2 separate regions of the Homo sapiens genome follow, and region 2 is linked to region 1. Evidence: fine-mapped expression QTL. A gene starts in region 1. The other region holds a variant in brackets. All regions are shown on one strand. Distances are from middle to middle.

The links.
Region 2: its variant is fine-mapped to the expression of FKTN in whole blood (TOPMed, PIP above 0.99).

Annotation. Positions count from the first base shown.
Region 1 is chr9:105,551,273-105,564,499 of GRCh38, forward strand. It overlaps FKTN (fukutin), which reads left to right and starts at 6,859. Exons shown (of 11, transcript NM_001079802.2): 1 at 6,859-6,893. It overlaps FKTN-AS1 (FKTN antisense RNA 1), which reads right to left and starts at 7,034. Exons shown (of 3, transcript NR_184141.1): 1 at 6,498-7,034; 2 at 5,842-5,903; 3 at 2,763-3,071. It overlaps FSD1L (fibronectin type III and SPRY domain containing 1 like), which reads left to right. Exons shown (of 14, transcript NM_001145313.3): 14 at 1-1,161. RefSeq lists enhancers at 6,720-6,769, 6,930-7,119.
Region 2 is chr9:105,597,007-105,606,272 of GRCh38, forward strand. It overlaps FKTN (fukutin), which reads left to right. Exons shown (of 11, transcript NM_001079802.2): 5 at 4,139-4,342; 6 at 7,209-7,486. Among named protein-coding and RNA genes, the nearest start is that of FKTN-AS1, 43 kb to the left of the region's middle. The variant C/T (reference allele first, on the strand shown) is at 4,139.

The sequences.
Region 1 (13,227 bases):
CCTGGATATGACATAAAAAGGATTTTGGCTTCTTTTTTGAAGTATTTAAAATTAATCACCTTAGCTCTACCATATACTAGATCTGTGACCGCTACACAAATTGTTTATCATCTTTGGGTCTCTATTGCCTTCTTTATAAAATAAGTGTAAGTTGTTCAGCCTGCCTCACAGGGCTGTTGTGAGGAAATAAAATGAAATGGAGTATGTGAAATTGCTTCAGCAACAGCAAAGTGCTACGTAAATGTAAAGTGTTGTTTTTAGCTAATAATGGATTTAAGTGTTTGGATAATTGTAGATGCATTTACTTTGATAAAGCGTGTGCTTAAAGTGGTATCACCAGTGATTTCTAACATGATTTTAAAAAAATAAAACCCCAATTAAAATGTTCTTTAATATTCATTTAATTTGTGCATGACTTGTGGCCTTTTTGTATTTTCTCAAGCCTATTACTCTAGAGCTGTAAAAGCTCTTGCACAGCATTGTTGTGTCAGTGTAGAATAGTGGCATAAATAAATGAATTAAGCTACATTTCCATGCAGGCATTTGCACTTTGAAGTTAGGGCTGCCCAGTGCCACATGCAAAGAGTGTATTTGGTCTAAACAGTTCTTTCCAAACAACCAAATGGCTGGGCAGCTTGTTGTCACGGATAAATGATATAAAATGTAACCACTGAACATTTGACAACTTTGTTGCATTATCATTTTTAAAAAAAGATGAAGCATTTCAAAATCTTGTTAACCTGGTTATCTCTTGGTATCTCTCCTGACATATTTGTTTTGCTTTAAATTGGATTAAATGGTTTACAGGTTATCTGAATCTACAGATTTAGTATGTCTATTATCTGGACATGATTTTGCTATGCAGTTGTGATAATAAAAATTCTAATTCCTCAGGTTTGGCCTTTTAAGTTATGGCTGAAGACCTTTAATGATACTTATGATGCACTCAGTGCCATACAATAGTGTTTTAAGAAGCACATGGCCTCATTTTCCTTAGAAACAAGACAAAGCCTTTTTAAAATGTTTTTTTTTCACTTTAAAATAGGGTATTCAAAGTGGAGTAACGTGTATTTTGAAATGATTTTGTGTTCTATATAGAATGTCCCAGTTAAGATTTTACAGAAGCACCTGGAATATCTCATTAAAAATTTAAAAACTCTTTTCCTGCTCTCTTTTGCTTCATTGTTTGATTTTATTAACTTTTATTTAAGTATAAATACAATATGCTGTTGGGGATGAGAATATAAAAAAAGTCATAGTTCCTTTGCCTAAAAAGCTTAACATTTTAGAGCACTACTGTTCAACAGAATTTTATGCAATTATGAAAAGTTATTTGTGCAGTCCAATACAGTAGTGACTGGCCATAGGCAGCTACTGAGCACTTTATATGTGGCTACATAGAGTTGCATATTGCTAATAGCCACTGTTTTGAACAGTGTACCTACAGATGGAAAATGAAACATGCTATGTTAGTAACTATAATATTACTTATGAATTTGGTTTCTTTGGATCTTGCTACATGTTGGGTTACATTTTGGTAGATGGTAACTAAGAGTCAGAATCAGAACCTAAACATTTTTAAAATTCTTGCTCTAACTTGAAAACAGTTTAAAAGAAAAAAAATCAGTGAGACTGGAGCGCCTGTAACTAAGAAGTTATGTAAGAAGAATGAAAGGAGACTGGATAGTCTTGAGTCACAGGAAGAAGAATGGACAAAGATTGATAAACCACTATAGAAGATGGAGAGTGAATGGGTGCAGCATTTCTGGAGAACAATTTTAGCAATATTAAGATTTTTAAATGCACATGCTCCTTAATTTCCTTTATAAGTATTTCTCTTACATATATACTCACAAAAAAGCCAATGTTCCTTGCAGCATTACCATAGCTAATAGTAGCAACCTAATTATTAATTGAAGACCTACAAATTTGGATGGACTTGGAGGTAAATTCCTTTTCCTTTTTTGGTAGCAAGGCACAGAACTGGTTCAAAAGGCCCAAGTTGCCTCAACAAAAGAATGTGATAACAGAATTTTGAAGGCTCCCCTTTTCTAACTTGCTGCACCAGCAAACTACCATATAAGTAGTGGTCTAGATATTATATATTCTGCACATTCCCCTCCCCAATAAATGTTATATAGACCATTATGACAATTGGCTTAATTAGAGCCTTTTCCTTGGTATACCAGTTCATTTGTGCCTGGCTGGGAGTTCTGTGGCATAAGAGCTCAGGATATTATGTGCACTCTACTTTTCTACTAAACCCCATTTTACACTTACACTGCATGGTGTATTTGTATTTATTTATTTTTGCACAAGGTCAGCACAAGAGCAGATGGTTAGATTTTGGTATTTCCATGTGATCCTACACAGCTGTTAAAGGATATGCTGTTAATGGAAGTGTATTCATGATATTAAACAAAAAAGTCATCCAGCAATATATACAGTACGATACAACGGGTGTGTGCATGCATGTATACTTGGGTAAGAGGGGACCCTGACCTGATCACCACACAGTCTTGCTGTGCTTCTCTTCATGGGATGAAAAATTGAGGAGCCAAGGGATTATGCCTACTTGGAATGCATGTTTCATTACCCACTTATATACTATATTATTGAAACAGTCTTTCGTTGTCTGAGATAACACCTGGAGTTCTTGTCCACTTATATACTACATTATTGAAACAGTCTTTCGTTGTCTGAGATAACACCTGGAGTTCTTGTCCCACCTCCAAGACGATTATGGAGCACGGACACAAAGGTGAGGTTAGAGTGAAAGTTTAATAAGGTGAAAGAAGAAAGCTCTCTGCCAGCAGAGAGGGGGTCCCGAACGGGAGTGCCCATCATGAGGCTGGGGTCCAGGTTTTTATGGACGGAAGGGGAAGGAATGTGCTTAGTCTGGGGGCTGTCTTGGCGAATGCGTGACTCGGCTTGGCCCGGGACCAGTCAGGAGGTGAAATGATTCATAGATGCTGCTTAGCTTGGCCCAGGACCTATCAGAAGCTGAAGTGAAGTGTGGCCGAGGACCAATCGGGCTGAGGTGATGATACACAGCAGCTGGACTTACAGTCCTAACAAAGGAAAGTAGAGCGCCCATAGGAACTTACCAGAGCCCACTGTGCCCATGCCTACAAAAGGGGAATAAACTTTTCCTGGGAACCTGCTGACAATACAAAGGACCAAGGCATTTCTATGCCAGGCCTTGTTCCCTTATCTGAGTGAGCTGGAGGTTTGTGCAAGTTTTTATCCAAATGGGCCGTAGGTTTTTCCATCTGTGCAGTCATGGGCATGTCTCCAGGCACAACACCCTGTGCTAGTTCCCTTATTGGTGCCTGCAGCTTTTTTCCCAGGCTGCTTTTTATATTATCTGGGGATAAGGCACTGACTCATGAGCCAGGGGCTCTCCAGGACCCTTCTCTTGTTACCTACCTAAGGTAAGCTAACTAACCGGATCCCCACACTCTTGCTGTGCCTCTCTTCATGGGATGAAAAATTGAGGAGCCAAGGGACTATGCCTACTTGGAATCCATGTTCCTTTACCCACAGAATTCTATACTATGTTATCAGCCAGAACCCCAGGATTCCTTGCCTCATCAGCCTGAAGCTTGCTTCCAGGATATGTGCAGGCCTTTTGTCCAAATCCATCCTGAAAAAAGACTACTACAGATGTATATACCCCTATGGCTGGCAGTTTGTGGGAAGTACAGATGAAGCTTGGATGTGCAGACTGAGTTGTCCACATGCATGCATGATAGGCCCCTGTGGCAGGCTTAAGCTAGAAGTAAAAAGAGACCCAGGGGATCAGGGAAGGGCAGGCCAACCTAGTATCACTTTCTAGTACACTTCTGAAGAATCTGCGAATCGCATATTTGAACCTAGATTTCTGTTCCTTGAGAATACATGTTAAAGTAGAAGAGTATAACATTTTATTTGTTGGTTAACGCTCAGCTATTTAGACACTGAAAATATGTCAGGGTTGGCTTTCATTTGTATTCTTGGCCCAGACCCTACAAATGTTAGGAGTCGGCCAGGATCCTTACATGTGTGCACAGCTGAGTGGTTTATAGAACATGAATATTTACTTGTAAGAGAGGCTGTTTTTATGCATCCTTGTACCCACTCTTTCAGCTGTATTTGCTATCCAGATTAAAGCATACTGACTTGACGTTTGCCATGAGCTGAGGGCTCACATTTGACCTTTCAGTATGCTTGATAAGTAACACTGCCACCAGTTTAGTTGTATATTTACCTTCAGTTATGTTTGTTCCCAAACCTGCTTATGTAGGTGGTAGTCACTGTTGTAGTCATGTAAGTATGTAAACCAATTATATAAATATATAAACCAAAATAAATATGAAATGAGTATGAAAAGGTACTTATAAGAAAAGTACGAGAACCATTAGAGATGAAGAGTTTAAAAAGTTGCAAAGTTAGTTGTGGCCAAAGTAATTGTGAGTGATAGGGGAAGATTTTTAAAAATAAATTCCAGGACTCCAAATTTATATTCCTTCACTTGTATCTTTAAGTTCCTGGTCCATTTTACAGAAACAGAAACTACAAATGATGGATGATGCATTATGTCTATGGTTTTGTAAGAAAAACAGTGAGATACTCTAATCAGCTGGTCCATGCTTAAAATGAACTTAGTTCAAAACAGAAGATTGGCCATTGTAACCCTCTACTGAAACTGCCTTTTTGAGAAGGTTTATTCAGAACTAGATTTGTTATACACTTGGAAAGTATTTATTTCTAAGAACCTGATAATTTTTCCCTTTTCCTGTTACTTTTAATTATAATTTCCAAATATACAGAAAAGTAGAAAGCCAGTGCTTTGTGCTCATCACCTAATCAATTGTTAACATTTTGCCATGTTTGTGCTATCTATTTTGTTTTAAAATGTCACCTGTAAGTATGCTATATGCATCCATGATGGCTTTTAAAAACAGCCACATTCTGTTAACATTCTTAGCAAAATTAACAGTAATTCTGTACTATTATCTAATGGATCAGTCCATACTAAAATTTCAGTTGTCTCAGAAGTATCTTTTTACAGTTATCTTGTTCAAATCAAGATCTAGACAGGGTCCACACATTGTACTCCGTTACATCTCTTAAATATTTGATTTTACAATAGTTCCCTCTGCTTTTAAATGCCATTTATGAAAAAAACTGAGGAATTTGTCTGGTAGAATGTCCCGTTTTCTGAATTTAGTTGCTTCTCTATATCCTGTATTAGATCTAGAGTTTGAGTAAATGCAGGTTCAATTTTTAGGCAAGAATCCTTCACAGGTGTGGCTGTGTACTTTCTATCACATCAGGAAGTACATAATATATGCTTGTCCCAAATTTAGTGAGATTAAGATCAGTGGGTTTAGGTGATGCCAGTCTATTATAAAGTTCCCCATCAACCTTTCACCTTAATTTTATCATCTATTGATGTTGCCCTTTCGATTATTTTATTAGGAGTTACAAAATCGTGATTGTTTTATCATCCTCCATTTATTAGCTGGAACTCTTATAAGTACTTTGGTTACACTAAAATTCAATTCATACAAGAAAGGCAGGATAAATGCTTGATGTTTTCCCTTATCAAGTTTTAGAATATTTAATCTTCAACTTGGCAATCTTCAATCACGACTGAATTTTATTTTTTAAGGAGTCATTATAAACTCAAGAATTTTTATATTTGATGTGTTTCAATCAATAGCAAGTATGTGATGCTCAAGTTTTCCCATGTCCCATCACGTTAGCACCTGTGTTAATGATGCCATTAAGCTTTGATAACTTACTTCCTCTTGGTGTAACCTTCCACTTTTTTTTATTAACCTACTGAGTACCTACCCGTTCTGAGTGCATTGGATGAGAGGACTTCAACAGTAAGCTTGTATGTGCATAGGAAATTTCTGGAAGGAAAAACAAAAAGTTGGTAAATGTCATAACCTGTAGGAAGTGAGGAAGATTTTTTCTTCCTTTTCTTTCTGTACTGATAGAATTAAAAACAAAGCTTAGAAAACAAATATATGATGGGAGTATTTTCCGTTTTGTAGAAATAAATTATAATTACAGTAACTGGTTTAGTGAATTATGGTTTTCAAAAATTTATAAGAAGATTAATATCTGAGCCTTAACAACCACCTTTTGGATTACACCGTTAAAAGAACCAAAGTGAGAGGATCGCTTGAGGCCAAGAGTTCGAGACCAGCCTGGGCAAGATGGTGAGGACGCCCTCCCCCCCACCCCCGCCACACCCCGCCCTGCTAGCCCCCAACGTCTCTACAAAAAAAGAAAAGAAAAAAGTTAATCAGGTACAAAATTGTATCCAGCCTTAAACTGGAGGGCAACAGGTCGCTAAATCTTGAATGTCATAAAGGCACCTCAACTTCATGAGGAATAGTGAACGCAGCTGCTATTTTCCACTCTATCCCCTAGCTCTACTAATTGTATCCAAACCAAACTTCAGGGAGTTATGCTGAATCCCTCTAGCAAAGCACACGCACTAAAAAAACCACTCGTTTATCAGAAGTTCACATTTAACGGGCTTGGAAAACGGCTCAGCTGCTGCCTCCAGTTCATCTTCCGCTGTCGAAAGCGTTTCAGAACTTAAACTCTCAGATTGCCTCAGTGCGCTGCTGTAGTTGTCAATTAGGCAAGAGATAAAAAAGGGCTTTGGCTAAGTGGCTAGATTATAAAAGCGAGGAATCGCCAGGGCTCAGTGAACTTCTGGCGGTGAGGATGCGACAAGAGTCACAGGAAAGCCGAGGCTGGGGCTGGACCGTGGGAACGTCCCAGCAGGAACCAAGCCAGCCTCCGCCGCTCAGCACTTGACGGCGGCTTTTGCGGCGGTTGCTGTGAGTGCCGTAAAGCGGAGCGGCTGCAGCCTGCTGTTGAGTGAGGTAAGGTACGGGAGGCTCAGGTCGGTACCCGGGGATGGGTGGGCGCCTTCAGACAGGTACCGCTGGCGACTCGGGTGCCCTTACCGGGCATCCTCCAGCATTCTGGGCACCTGCCTACCCCTTGGTGAGGAGGCCGGCCACAGGCTGAGCGCGCTCCGGGCTGGGTACTCCTCAGTCAGTCCACGAGCATCGCGTGGTAGACTTCCACTTGGCCAGTCCTTCCCGCACTTCTGGGCGTGTCATCAGGTGAAATCTTAATCCTGGGACAGATGAAAGGTTGGAGGACGATCGAGACTCTTGTAGTAGCCGGGTTAGGGTAGTGACCCCTGACCTCAGGTTATCCGCCCGCGTTGGCCTCTCAAAGTGCTGAGATTACAGCCGTGAGCCACCGCGCCCGGCCTGAAATTTACAATTTCTCATTTAACATGAGGTAAGCCACATTTCTCTTGGCTTCAGTTTTGTCAGATGTGGAAAAAAAAAAAAAAGGACCTAGATGATATATCAGATTCTTTATGCTTTTGAAGATAGCACGTTTCCAGTCGGTAAAAATCAAGCTGTGAACAAATGACAAAGTGAATGATAGAGCAGTATATTAGAAATTGGGCAGATGGAAGCCCAGTAGAAAAGGCTGTGTTTGAGCTAGACTCTGAGGATAAATAGGGTTTGAACGATTGGAAACCATCTCTGTTGGGCCATGGACAAAGATATCAAATGCAGGAATAAGCATTTATATTTTAGCGATTCTATTTGTGGACATAAGTTTAGTGAGGGTAGAGGATTTGGGAAGGCTGGCATTGAACGGTGAAAGAACTCTTAGTGGAAAGGAAGTGCAGGGTGTTCTGACAAGGAAGAAGAAAGGAACCGGGGAAATGCCGAAAGAACAATACGCAGGACTTGATTTCTTGGATCTGGGTGATGATATTTTTAACCTGCGTTTCTAAAAAGTAAGTTTAAGTGCTGTTGGCAAAAATGGGAATTCTGTTGAATTCCAGCATGCAATAGTGTACTGGGAATAAAGTGATTTAGATCGTAGAGTGCTGAGGTTGCCAATAACTAGCCTCTTGGCTGTCATTTAATTCTTCTAGAGCCTATTCTCCATAAGGTGATGTTGGGCCAGCTGATCTCTCTTCTCTAAAGCCTGTAAAACTAGAGACTGTGAGGATGGAGAGCTAGTTACTTTCTTCTGGACTGGGAGAGGACGATAGTTGACAGAGAATAAAATTGTTAATTTTGGGGCTGGACGCGGTGGCTCACGCCTGTAATCCCAGCACTTTGGGAGGCTGAGGCGGGTGGATCACCTGAGGCCAAGGAGTTCGAAACCAGCCTGGCCAACATGGTGAAACCCTATCTCTACTAAAAATACAACAAATTAGCCGGGTGTGGTGGCGGGCGCCTGTAATCCCAGCTACTCCTGAGGCTGAGGCAGGAGAATCGCTTGAACTTGGGAGGCAGAGGTTGCAGTGAGCCAAGATCAGGCCACTGCACTCCGGCCTGGGCAACAAGAGCGAAACTCTGTCTCAAAAAAAAAAAAAAGTTAATTTTGAACATGTTAAATTTGAGGTGAGGTGCAGGAAATAGAGTTGAAAATATAGGCAGATAGAGTGCATGGACTGTAATTTAAATAGTGTTTTCTCTCACAGGTGGTAGTTAAAATCTTGAGAATGGATTTGGTTTCAGGGAGAGATTGTAGAGAGAGTAACTATAGGCCATACCCACAGAGAGGAGGTTGGAGAAATTATTGAAGGAGGCATGTGGATCTCAGAGCTAAGAGCAAGGAAGGAGTTCTTTTTAAAAAAGTTACATATAGTTGTAGATTCTCAGGGGCCCAGTGTTGTTATTAAGCTAATTTAACAGCATTTACAGCAAATAATAAGCACCTACTTCTGGGAATTCTGGCAGAAAATAAATAATTCAAATAGATATAATCTCCACTGCCTAATTGTCTACCCAGAAGTGGTATCATTTACATATTTATTTATTCAACAAATATTTATATGTTTCAAGCACTGCTGGTTCTAGGGATATAACGACGAGCAAGGTAGACATTGTTCTTATCCTCCCTGCATGTAAAGCCCTTAGCATCTACATCAGTGCTTTTCAAATTTTAATGTACATATGAATCATCTGAGGATTTTATTAAAATGTAGATTATGAATCAGTAGGTGGGGGCTGAAAATTCTGTATTACTAACAAGCTCCAATGTGATACTGATGTTCTTAGGACCATACTTTTAAGTGACAAGAATCTAGATCCTGTTTAGCAAATATGGCCGTTATTAAGCCACTACCACTACCCATCATCTGTTTCTCCTAGGATAAAATAATTTTACTTCTTATGAAAATAATATATGCTTATACAAATATTGGAACAATATAGAAAAGTGTAAAGAACCATGTAAAAATCACTCCTAATTCTCCCTACCCAGAGATAACCATTATTAATATTTTTGGGAACATTCATCCAGATTTTACATATGTACATACATTCACAATTTAAGTGTTGCACTAAGTACATGTCACACTCTAAGCCCTGTGTTTGATTCTATTTGCTGTATGATTTTATTAAGATAAATACCCAAGTGTCCAGAACCAAGCAATTAAGTACTTGCATTCTTGAGGGAGCCACTTAAAAATAATTTGGGGGCCAGGCACGGTGGCTCACGTCTGTAATCTCAGCACTTTGGGAGGCCAAGGTGGATGGATCACGAGGTCAAGAGATCAAGACCATCCTGGCCAGCCTGATGAAACCCTGTCTCTACTGAAAATACAAAAATTAGCTAGGCTTGGTGGCACATGCCTGTAGTCCCAGCTACTCGGGAGGCTGAGGTAGGAGAATCACTTGAACCTGGGAGCGGAGGTTGCAGTGAGCTGAGATTGTGCCACTGCACTCCAGCCTGGCAACAGAGCAAGAATCCGTCTCAAAAAACAAAAAAAAAAACAAAACAAAAAACAAACTTTGGGAGCCGGACAGTGTCTCATGCCTATAATCATTCCAGGTGCCCAAGAGGCTGAGGTGGGAGGATTGCTTGTGCCTAGCAGTTTGAGGCAGCAGTGAGCTATGATTGTGACACTGCACTCCAGCCTGGGTGACAGAGCAAGACTCCATTTCTTAAAAAAATAAAAACTTGTGTTACTTCAAAAATGGGGAGACATTAACATAATTACATGTGGGCTCTAGTAAATGAATATTTGTCATTTCATTTAGGATGAGAGGAGAATTTTTAAAGTTTTAAAAAAAACTTAGTTTTTTTCTTACTACAAAATCAATTGATGTTCACGTAAGATAAATAAGGAAAAAAAATAAAAGCACCTACACTCCTCCCAACCCAAAGACAATCCTTGCTGTCTTCACCTTCCTTCCTGCTAACCTGTCTTATCTATATCTTTCATTTCAGCCACTATCTTTCCAAAACCCTCTTACACCATAGTCATTCAGAAAGGAGTAACTATGTATTTATGATTTTTCTGGAGCATCTACTGGAGAAACTAAATTTCATTAGCTTTTTATCTTCAAGTAACAGCATGTGTAGGTAGAAGTTATATTGCAAAGGATTAAGTGCATGAATGGTAAGCAGGTAAAGAAACTTCTTAACCCTTTGCAGTCTAATGTTTACTTCCAAGCTGCTGACAGTTGTGAAAAGTTAGCAGTCAAAGGAAAAGAAATGGACAATAAGAAAGACCAACAGTATTTAGGGAAGATTTGATAGTAGCTGTTGCTACTGGGATATTTTTGGCTTTTGAGAACAGCTGAAAAATGTCGATTTTTTTTTTTTTTTGGTCTGACCTCTGAATTCATTTTCAGACGCATTTTCTCTTTATGCCTGCCAATCTGCTACATCATCTCTCTAACTATACCTTTTCCTAATTACACTACTCTCTTTCCTCTGTAGTTCAGCCTCCTGTTTTATTTTGTTCAGAGCATATTTGAATGTCAGTTCTGTTTTAATGAATTGCCTGAAGGATTCTTCCTGTGCGCTGCACAAACGAAACCAGTTCACTGAGACTGTGCTACTGCAGTAAAGAAACAGCTTACTTAACAATGATGCTGGCTGTGCAAAGGAGTTATTACTCAAATCAGTCTCGCCAAAGACTTGGTGGTTAGTTTTTCAAGGATAGTTTTTAGTTTGGTGGCAGGGGACTAGGGAATGAGGGCTGCTGGTTGGCTGGGGATGTGATGATAAGGGTGTGAAAAATGGTCCTTGTGTGCTGAGTCCACCTCTGGGTGGGGAGCCACGTGACTGGTTGGGTCATGAGTCACTAGTTCACCTCTAGGTAGTGTCAGTTGGTCCAGAATGCAAAGGTCTGAAAAATATCTCAAAAGACCAATCTTAGGTTCTGTAGCCAGGGAAAATATAAATCCTGTGTCCTCTGGAAAAAAGACTGGTTATCATTTAACTACATGTTACCAGAATTCAGGTCCCTCTCATAATCCTAATCTTGTAGTCTTTCATTACCTTTATAAAGGCAGTTTAGTTTTGGAAAAGGTTACTATCATCCTTGCTTTAGGTTAAACTGTAAACTAAATTCCTTTCAAAGTTAGCTTGGCCTGCACCCAGAAATGACCAAGGACAGATTGGAGGTCAGAAACAAGATGGAATCAACTATGAGATTTCTCTTAGCTGTCATAATTTTGCAAAGGCAGTTTCACTCTCTGATTCATACTATCTATGCCTCACTCTTACTCCCCAATATCCCCAAATAAGTCGGGGATCCCACAGCATAAGGATATGGCTAGGCTCTCACATATCATCTTATGAACCTAAGTTAGGTGTCAGGGAAGGTTTTTGATTCCACTTCCCCCCACTCCTGCCTTCTGGATCATCTCTCTTGATATATCATTCATTCATTCATTCATTCAAACAGACCCCTACCTAGGTGATTCTCAAAAGAGTGGGGTCTGGGGCTGGAGGAGGTGTCAGGGTAAACCAGTTACCAAAAGTCTTTCATACTAATACCTTCAAAGGACAAATGCAAATGTAAAAAGGAAGCTGAAAGAATATGCAGTGGGGTTCCAAGATGGCCGAATAGGAACAGCTCCAGTCTACAGCTCCCAGCGTGAGCGACGCAGAAGACGGGTGATTTCTGCATTTCTAACTGAGATACTGAGTTCATCTCACTGGGGATTATCGGACAGTGGGTGCAGGACAGTGGGTGCAGCGCACCGAGCGTGAGCCGAAGCAGGGCAAGGCATCACCTCACCCGGGAAGTGCAAGGGGTCAGGGAATTCCCTTTCCTAGCCAAGGGAAGGGGGGACAAATGGCACCTGGAAAATCGGGTCACTCCCACCCTAATACTGTGCTTTTCCGACAGTCTTAGCAAACAGCACACCAGGAGATTATATCCCACGCCTGGCTCGGAGGGTCCTATGCCCACGGAGCCTCACTCATTTGTAGCACAGCAGTCTGAGATTGAACTGCAACGTGGCAGCGAGGCTGGGGGGGGGGGCACCCGCCATTGCTGAGGCTTGAGTAGATAAACAGAGGGGCCGGGAAGCTCGAACTGGGTGGAGCCCACCACAGCTCAAGGAGGCCTGCCTGCCTCTGTAGACTTCACCTCTGGGGGCAGGGCATAGCCAAACAAAAGGCAGCAGAAACCTCTGCAGACTTAAATGTTCCTGTCTGACAGCTTGGAAGAGAGTAGTGGTTCTCCCAGCATGGAGCTTGAGATCTGAGAACGGACAGACTGCCTCCTCAAGTGGGTCCCTGACCCTCAAGTAGCCTAACTGGGAGGCACCCCACAGTAGGGGCAGACTGACACCTCACACAGCCGGGTACCCCTCTGAGACGAAACTTCCAGAGGAACGATCAGGCAGCAACATTTGCTGTTCAGCAATATTCGCTGTTCTGCAGCCTCTGCTGATACCCAGGCAAACAGGATCTGGAGTGGACCTCCAGCAAACTCCAACAGACCTGCATCTGAGGGTCCTGACTGTTAGAAGGAAAACTAACAAACAGAAAGGACATCCACATCAAAACCCATTTGTACATCAACATCATCAAAGACCAAAAGTAGATAAAACCACAAAGATGGGGAAAAAACAGAGCAGAAAAACTGAAAATTCTAAAAATCAGAGCACCTCTCCTCCTCCAAAGGAACGCAGCTCCTCACCAGCAATGGAACAAAGCTGGATGGAGAATGACTTCGACAAGTTGAGAGAAGAAGGCTTCAGACGATCAAACTTCTCCGAGCTAAAGGAGGAAGTTCAAACCCAACACAAAGAAGTTAAAAACCTTGAAAAAAGATTAGACGAATGGCTAACTAGAATAACCAATGCAGAGAAGTCCTTAAAGGACCTGATGGAGCTGAAAACCATAGCACGAGAACTACATGAAGAA
Region 2 (9,266 bases), 44 kb after region 1:
TTATTTGAATAAGGGAAAAGTAATGATCAGGAATAAAAATCTATTCAACCTATTCCTTTATAAGATGAGGGGAAACCAGCAATATATACAATATATCCTTGTTTTGTTTTAGAAATTTCAGAACCTACACATTGATAAAATATATTTTCCTATGTTTTAAAACTAAATTTAGAAAGAAAAACATTGCTGGGTTACTAATAAAACACAACATTTATTCTGTTAGCATACATTATGGGAATGACCAGATATTTCTTGATACACTTCAATCTTTGGCTTCTCTATAACTAGAGATGTGGAACACTTTAAATTAGAAGTGGATTTTCAGATCACCAAGCAGTGGTCATTTTAGATCATTGCTAACACCAAGTAGATTTTGAACTACTGTTTAAAAGTAAAGTCTGGGATATCCTATTATCAGGCTCCCCAGCTCTCTAGTCTATAAGTGTCAATGTAAACTTTTAATTTATTAAAAATAGCAATTGTTTTGCTCTGTGAATTTAGGGTATTCTGAGGATAAAGGTAAGCATGATATACTTGGAAGTTATACTACCCAGTCACAGTTATAAAGATTTTAGATTAAATTAAAAAGAGGTATTTTGTATGCTTCTCTGTAACACTTCTCTACCTCCATCCCACCCTTAGGAAACACATACACCTAATACTTGGACCTGATTTATCATCTTGTGGTTGAAGTAATTTGCTGAGATTTAAAATTCAGTATTTTAACAGCCAAAGGCAACAGGGGTGATCTTTCATACATTTTAACATTATAAGATGTGATGATACTTAGAGAAACATATATTTTTCAGATTTGCCATTTATTAGGAGTCTTCATCTGTACACTGTAAAGCAATTTCAGCAAAAAATTTAAAGCCGTAGTAGCTTCAGTTGGATAAAAGGTTTTCCTTTATCGGTATTAACCAACAACATTCTGACAACATTCCCAAACCTTTTAGTAAATAGAGAGAGCAGTCAGAGAAAGTACAGGTTCACTGATACATTTTAAAATGGAATTTGTGAAAAATTTAAAGCTTAAAATAATAGAAAAAAGTAGCGTGACTCTATCCTTTTCATTCAAGAAATGATCCTTGAGGTGGGAGAAAATAATGGATTTTTTTCAAAGTCTTTACTTCCACGGTACGCAAGCAAAAAGTTGAAGAGCAGCTTACCACATTCAGTGAGTTCTCTTTATACTCTTTTACATTGAGGGGACTAAAAAAAATTGTAAATGTGGTCACTGAATGACTATATTTGCAAAATCACAGGAAAGGAGAAGTACTAACATACTTCTAAACTTTTAGAAGGAATAAAAGGTGAAATCTCATCAATAGTGTGATATTGAGCCCTGGTAAAATTCTAGGGCTCAATGTTTATGGAGTTATTAAACAGATGACTTGGGAGCACTTAGAAAAGAAAATGATCATAATTAGGAACTAGGCTTTTACTAAGAACAAGTCCTGCCAAGACTTTTTAGGTTTTAATAAAATTTTAATACACAGGCAGATGAATGGGCTATTATGGTCTCAGCATAATCTCTTTTCAACAAGATGTTTTTCAGTCTTATAAACAAAATGAGTTACTGAAGGTCAGATGATAATAGTGATTTAGAATTAATTGGATTTAGAATCAACTGGACACGTTTCCAAGGAGCGTTAATGATTGTATTGATAACAACTTGGAGGATGTGTTTAGAAGGTGAGTTATAGAATCTCTGCTTGACCCTGACCTAATCTGTATTTATATTAATAATGGTAATGAAGCTATAAGTGTGTTCATCATATTTGTATTTAACACCAACCTGAGATCCATTCAACAAACATTAAAGTACCTTTTATGTAGTAGTTCTGTTATCTCATCTTTCTTCCAAAACCATTTCTTTCTTGTTTTTTTCCTAGTATAAAGCACAGAAAGTAATAACCCTAAAAGACACACACACACACACACACAAAATAGCTAAATTGGACTATTAAAATTTTAAACTTCTAGTCATCAAAAAACACTATTAAGAAAATGAATAAGCATGCCACAGAGTAGCAAATATTTGTAAAACATGTATCTCACAAAGGAATGGTATCAAAGATATATGAAGAACTCCCACACGACTCAGTAATAGATTTTTTGTTCATGCCTTTCATCAAGTTGAGGATGTATTTTATTCCTGGTTTGCTGAAAGTTTTAAATCATGAATAGATACTGAATTTTGTCAAATGCTTTTTTCTATATTGAAATTATCATAGTTTTTCACTTTTTTCTGTTGATTTGTCAAATTTTATTGATTGATTTTCAAATGCTAAAGTAAGCTTTCATTCCTAGGATAAATACTACTTGGTCATGATATTTACTTTCCTTTTTTATCTTTTTTTAGTTACTGGAATTGATTTTCTAATATTTTATTAAGTATTTTTGCATCTGTGTTCATGAGGGATGGTGGACTATACTTTTTTTTGTAAGGTCTTTGTCAGGTTTTGCTTTTTTTTTTTTTTTTTTGAGATGAAGTCTCTCTGTCGCCCAGGCTGGAGTGCAGCCATGTGATCTCGGCTCACTGCAACCTCCACCTTGTGATCTCGGCTCACTGCAACCTCCACCTCCCGGGTTCAAGTGATTCTCCTGCCTCAGCCTCCTGAGTTGCTGGGACTACAGGCACACACCACCACGCCCGGCTAATTTTTGTATTTTTAGTAGAGACAGGGTTTCACCATGTTGGCCAGGCTGGTCCTGAACTCCTGACCTCAGGTGATCCACCTGCCTTGACCTCCCACAGTGCTGGGATTACAGGCGTGAGAAGTTTTGCTGTTGAGTATGGCACTGGCCTCTTAAAATCAGATAGGAAGTATTTTCTCCTGCTCCATTTTCTCAGAAAGTTTTTGTAGAATTGGTATTCTTCCTTAAAAATGATAGAATTCACCAGTGAACTGTCTAAGTCTGAAGTTTTTCCTTGTTGTTTTGAGGGCAGTTTTTTTTTTTCCTAACAAATTCAGTTTCTTTAATAGGTATAGGGCAATTCAGATTTTGTTTCATCTTGTGGCAGTTTTGTTAAATTGTATTTTTAAAGAAATTTGTGTCATCTAAGTTGAATTTTTTGGTGTAACATTGTTTATCCTAACTTTTTACTTAGCTGTTTCTCACACTGAGGTAATAAACCCCTATAAGGCAGAGATTATTGTATTCTTGGCATTTGCATAATACTCTACACTAAAAACAAATAATGAGACTGATTCTTAGCTTTATCTCATCCTTTATCCTTACAATTGATATTTTGTCTATTTATTTATCTTGTATATATTTTTATGAGTTCCTTCAGATTTTCTGAATAAGAATTTATTCTTAATTTCATGAAGCACCTTTTTGATAGGCAAACATTCCTATAAGTCTTGCTTTCATTGAAGTAGGCTTTTAAGCAATAGTGTATGCCAGATATTCTGTTTATCCTTGCTGTTCTTAGATATTACTTATTCCTAAGTGTGATTTAGTCCATTTTCATTCTACTGTTGAATTTTTGTTTTTTTCAGTAGGGGACCCTACTTACTACCCAGCAGAGTTATATTTTGAAATATTGCAGTATTAGAAAAGCACATTATATATGGCAGTCATCAAGCAGGCAGTGTATTTTGGTCTGAGTCTTTTGCTTAGAAAGATTATTAAGCAGCATTACAGATATGAAGAAAAATGGTACAAACAACTGAATTTTGTTTTTGAAAGATTAACAAGACTGATTTTTAAAAGCTGACGGATAGTTCTCTCAATTTTGCTTGAAAAGATTTAGCTAATACTAAGAGAATAATTTTTTAAGCACCACATTTTCATGTCAGATACCACTTCCTCTGTGAAATTTCTTATCCTTTTGATGTATGGTAAATTTGTAGCTTACTGGTCTGTACTTTTATAATATGTTGTATATGTTTTTCTTGTAGCATATTTCACCTTATATTGAAAATGTTCATCTTTCTTAGAAGACTGCTTATTGAGAGCAGAGACCATATGTGCTATTTAATCATTTGTATTTTTTAGCACAATGATAAGCATGGTATCTATTGGGTAACTACTCTGCATTCTTATACAATTAATGAATTAAAATGTTATAAAATAGACTGTTGTGTTGGCTTACTGGAATTACGAGAATTCTTTTTCTCTCAAACAG[C/T]GTGCAGTTAAAAAATTTATTATGTTAACATCCAACCAAAATGTACCAGTGTTTCTTATTGATCCTTTGATACTGGAATTGATTAATAAGAACTTTGAACAAGTCAAAAATACTTCTCATGGCTCTACTTCACAATGCAAGTTTTTCTGTGTTCCAAGAGACTTTACTGCATTTGCACTGCAGTATCACCTATGGAAGAATGAGGTAAGTGACTTGCTTTCAGATAATGGAATGTGTCTCTTTTTACAAAATAGTATAGGTTTAGGCTAGTTTAAAATGTAAAACATTAAAAATTTTTCCTGAAACACTTTATAAATTGTATCAGGAATATTTTCAGCTATAAATAACAATACAACTAATCACTAAGGCAAATAGGGGATTTCTTTTTCTTATATAATGAGAGGTTAAAAGGTTAGTGGCTATTGATATTAGTTTAGCTAGCCACTGATGTCAGGACTTGTGTCTCTGAAATTCTTTATTCATTTACCTCATTATCACAGGATAGCTGTCGTAGCTCCACATATCACATCCATGTTCACAACAGGAAGATGAGAGGAAAGATTCTGCTTTTTTGCTGGGGGAAACTTCTCAATATCGGTATTTTTAGGTCATTTCTGTTGAACTGTTTGATATCTCATAGAAAAAGCCTACAAGGCTTATTTTTACAAAGAATATTTTATAATGTCCCTTTATATTCCCCAAATGAAGTTCATAGAAATTATAACCCTCCTATATACATAATTCCCCAAATCAATATAATGTATTAACTATAATATAACCTAGAAATAAAAGGAAATGATATGTATTGCTGTGTGCAGATGCTCCAGAATGACTACACTGGAAGACATAATAAAGTAATTCAGATGCTTGTATTTAGAAGTAGGATCACAGAATGTGGTAGCTACAAATATAAACCCATACTATGAATGATATTGTTGTTGGCAATATGATTTTCCAAAATAGTGAGCAAGTTTCCAACAACAAAAAAAGTAAAATTGTCTCTTCATTGACATGACTATTGTATTCCTGAGAAATAAAAGCTCAGACAATTATAAACAAGTTTTTCACTATGTGATTATGTGACAGGACATTTGAAATTACATAGTACACAGGATAGATTTTCATATTTTGGATTGTAGGATATCTAATGTTCTTGGCCTAGGACTCTAAATGCCAGTTTGTCATTATGATAAACCAAAAATATCCCCCCAAATTTCTGAAGTATCTGTTGGGTACAGTCCCACTTGCCTTGAGAACCACTATTTTAGAAGAAGGGGAGTATGCCACCATTGGCAAAACTGATACTACCATAGTCAAGAGGAAGAAGCAAAAGCTCAGCCATACCCAGAATCAGCACATGGGTTCAAGTTTATTCTTCGTTTGTTTTTGTTTGTTTGTGTTGGGTTTTTTGTTTTTGTTTTTGTTTTTTGAGACGGAGTCTCGCTGTGTCACCCAGGCTGGAGTGCAGTGGTGCAATCTCTGTTCACTGCAATCTCCGCCTCCCAGGCTCAAGGGATTCTCCTGCCTCAGCCTCCTGAGTAGCTGGGATTACAGGCGTGTGCCACCACGTGTGACTGATTTTTGTATTTTTTTTTAGTAGGGACGGGGTTTCACCATATTGGCCAGGCTGGTCTTGAACTCCTGACCTCAAATGATCCACCTGCCTCAGCCTCCCAAAAGTTTCTCCTTTTGTACATATGACATCCTACTATTCAAGAGATTCAAGAGCCCTTGGATAGTCCCCCCTAAAACATCCCCCAATGTGGAGCTAATCAGATTGTTAGATCTAATAATGAAAGACTCCATTTGCATGTGATTTTTCTTTATTAATGCCATTACCATAAAGTGAGCAAACCTCTGCCAAGGCTACTGGGAGTGGACTTTTCTAGCAAAACCTTGACCTAGGCCTTTACACCAATTGATCAGAGCAACTATTTTGTTCTTTACTTCTCTTGTTGATGGTTATAAGAAAGCAAACCATATCATAATTCTGCCTATTTTGTCTGTCAGTCTTTCCTCCTATAACCCAAGGTCACGTTCTTCTCAAGTTCTGGCCGGCCTTTTAAATATTTCCTGAATTTGTCAGCTGATAATGCCTTTCTTTTATTCTATTCAGTAGTGTCTTTCTCTGAATTGGCTACCCTCCCCCTCAGTCAGTGCTTTCTACTTCTAAGGTGTACCAAGAAAGAAAAGGGAAGAAGGGAATGTTACAGTTGATAATGAAACAAATGATGTTGGAAAATGAACCTTGTCTTACAGTATGTTTGTTAATTTCTAATGATTTGCATTATGATGGTGTTCTATTATGGTAGTATTTTAAGATGTTGGGATGTAAACTATGAGATGAAAGAACTACTTTTTTGAAGTACTTTTGAAGATAAAGGTTATTAAAAGTTAAATTAAGAATTACAAGTTTAATTTTAAGTGCTGTCCTTAAATCAACATTTACTTTATAGAAACTAACTGGAAAACACTAACATGAGCATTCTCATTCCAAGGAAGGGATTTGTATTAATTTTCATAGAGTTTTTTTTGTTTTTTTTTTTTGAGACAGGGTCTCACTTTGTCACCCAGGCTTGAGTGCAGTGGCACAATCTTGGCTCACTGCAGCCTTGATCTCTCAGGTTCAAGTGATCCTCCTGGCTCAGACCCCCAAGTAGCTGGGACTACAGGTACATGCCACCACACCTTGGCAAATTTTTGTTTGTATTTTTTGTAGAGACAGGTTGCCCAGGCTGGTCTCAAACTCCTGAGCTCAAGTGATCCACCTGCCTCAGCCTCCCAAAGCGCTGGGATTACAGGGGTGAGCTATGGTGCCCAACCTATAAAGAGAGTCTTTGGCTATATCTTTCCTGCTACATACTTTGTATTTTTGCTGCTTTCCTTTATTCTCCCACCACTACCTTCTGCCCATCACCCTCATTAAAAAATGTTCTTACAGAGCAGATTAGCACAAAAATATGGCTCAAGTTCAATATAAGAATCACTTTAGTTTTGCTACTAGTATTTGGCTTTAAATATTCAATGTTTAAGTGTTGTTTCTTGATGTTTGATGCTTCTTTGGTTCTAGGAAGGCTGGTTTCGGATAGCTGAGAATATGGGATTTCAGTGCCTAAAGATTGAGAGTAAAGATCCCCGGCTAGACGGGATAGACTCACTCTCTGGAACTGAAATCCCCCTGCACTATATCTGCAAACTGGCCACTCATGCGATCCACTTGGTAGTCTTTCATGAGAGGAGTGGCAACTACCTCTGGCACGGCCACTTGAGACTTAAAGAACACATTGACAGGAAATTTGTTCCCTTCCGAAAGTTACAGTTTGGTCGTTATCCAGGAGCTTTTGACAGGTAAGTTCAGAGTCAAAACGTGAAATGTGAAATGAGTGTTGTTCAGTCATAATTCTTGCAGTGTTTTTACATTTGAGTATTGAAATCTAATATATAATTTATATAAGTATTTACAGTAACATTATTCTTAATGACTCCAAATTAGAAGCCACCCAAATGTCCTTCAACAATAAAAGGATTGGCTGGGCACTGTGGCTCATGCATGTAATCCCAGCACTTTGGGAGGCCGAGGTGGGCAGATCACCTGAGGTCAGGAGTTCGAGACCAGCCTGGCCAACATGGTGAAACCTCGTCTCTACAAAAAAATACAAAAATTATCCATGCATTGTGGTGGGTGCCTGTAATCCCAGCTACTGGGGAGGCTGAGGAAGGAGAATTGCTTGAGCCCTGGAGGTGGAGGTTGTAGTGAGCCGAGATTGTGATACCACACTCTAGGCTGGGCAACAGAGCAGGACTTTGTCTCAAAAAAAAAAAAAAAACTGTAAAGGAATAAATAATTTTTGATATATGTGTTCATACAATGAAGTATTACACAGCAGGGAAAAATAAACTAGGGGTCTGTGCACATTGTGGATGAATCCTACAATGCTGAATGACACAAGGCACAAAAGAATCTAAATTCTATTATTATTATTATTTTTTTCCATTCAAAAGTTTCTTTTATTCATTAATAAACAATGATATATATGTATACACAGCTTCATAATCATACCAAAAAAGTTTAAGTGAACTATCCTTTAAAGGCTGAGACCATAACTTTTTGAACAGAAATAATATGGATTATAAGACAGTATATTGATTTTTGCTGTCTTTATTTTAATATAAAGAACAAATTGTGTGGTAAGACTAATTTATTTTCCCACTTTGAAATTAAACCTCTCTAGAAACATTTAGATAAATTATGAACTAATCTTTAAAATACCGTATTACTTCAGCATTTCAAAATCAGTAAGTTTGGAAACTGTATTTAAGTTAATATTAGGAATAATATAACCACTGTTGATAACTAACAATATAGCCAAAAGAAAATGTGGTACATACACACAATGGAGTACTATTCAGCCATAAAAAAGAATGAGATCCTGTCATTTGCAACAACATGGATAGAACTGGAGATCATTATATTAAGTGAAATAAGCCAGGCACAGAAAGACAAACTTTCCATGTTCTCACTTATTTGTGGGAGTGAAAAATGAAAATAACTGAACTCATGGAGATAGAGAGTAGAATGATGGTTATCAGAGGCTAGGAAGCATAGTGGGAGAAAGAGGGGAAGAGGGGGATGGTTAATGGGTACAAAAAAATAGTTAGAAATAATGAATAAGACTGAGTATTTGCTAGGACAACAAGGTGACTATAGTAAAAAATAATTGTACATTTTAAAATAACTAAAAGTATACTTGGATTGTTTAATACAAAGGATAAATGCTTGAGGTGATAGATACCCCATTTACTCTGATGTGATTATTATGCATTGCATGCTTGTATCAAAATATTGCATGTAACCCATAAGTATACACACCTACTATGTACCTACAAAAATTGAAAATACAAAAGTGAAAGTAAATTCTATTATTACTTTTATAAAAAGTTCAAACACATGCTAAATTATGTTCATGGATGTATACCCTTATAGTAAAAGTATTAAGAAGGCTAAGCAAGACGTACCAAAAAAGACTAGATAGAGGACACAGAGAACTACAGGGAAACTGGAAGAATTTTATTTCTGTGGTGGAGACTTTGGTGTTTACTTTATAATTCATTATTTTGTGCCTTTATG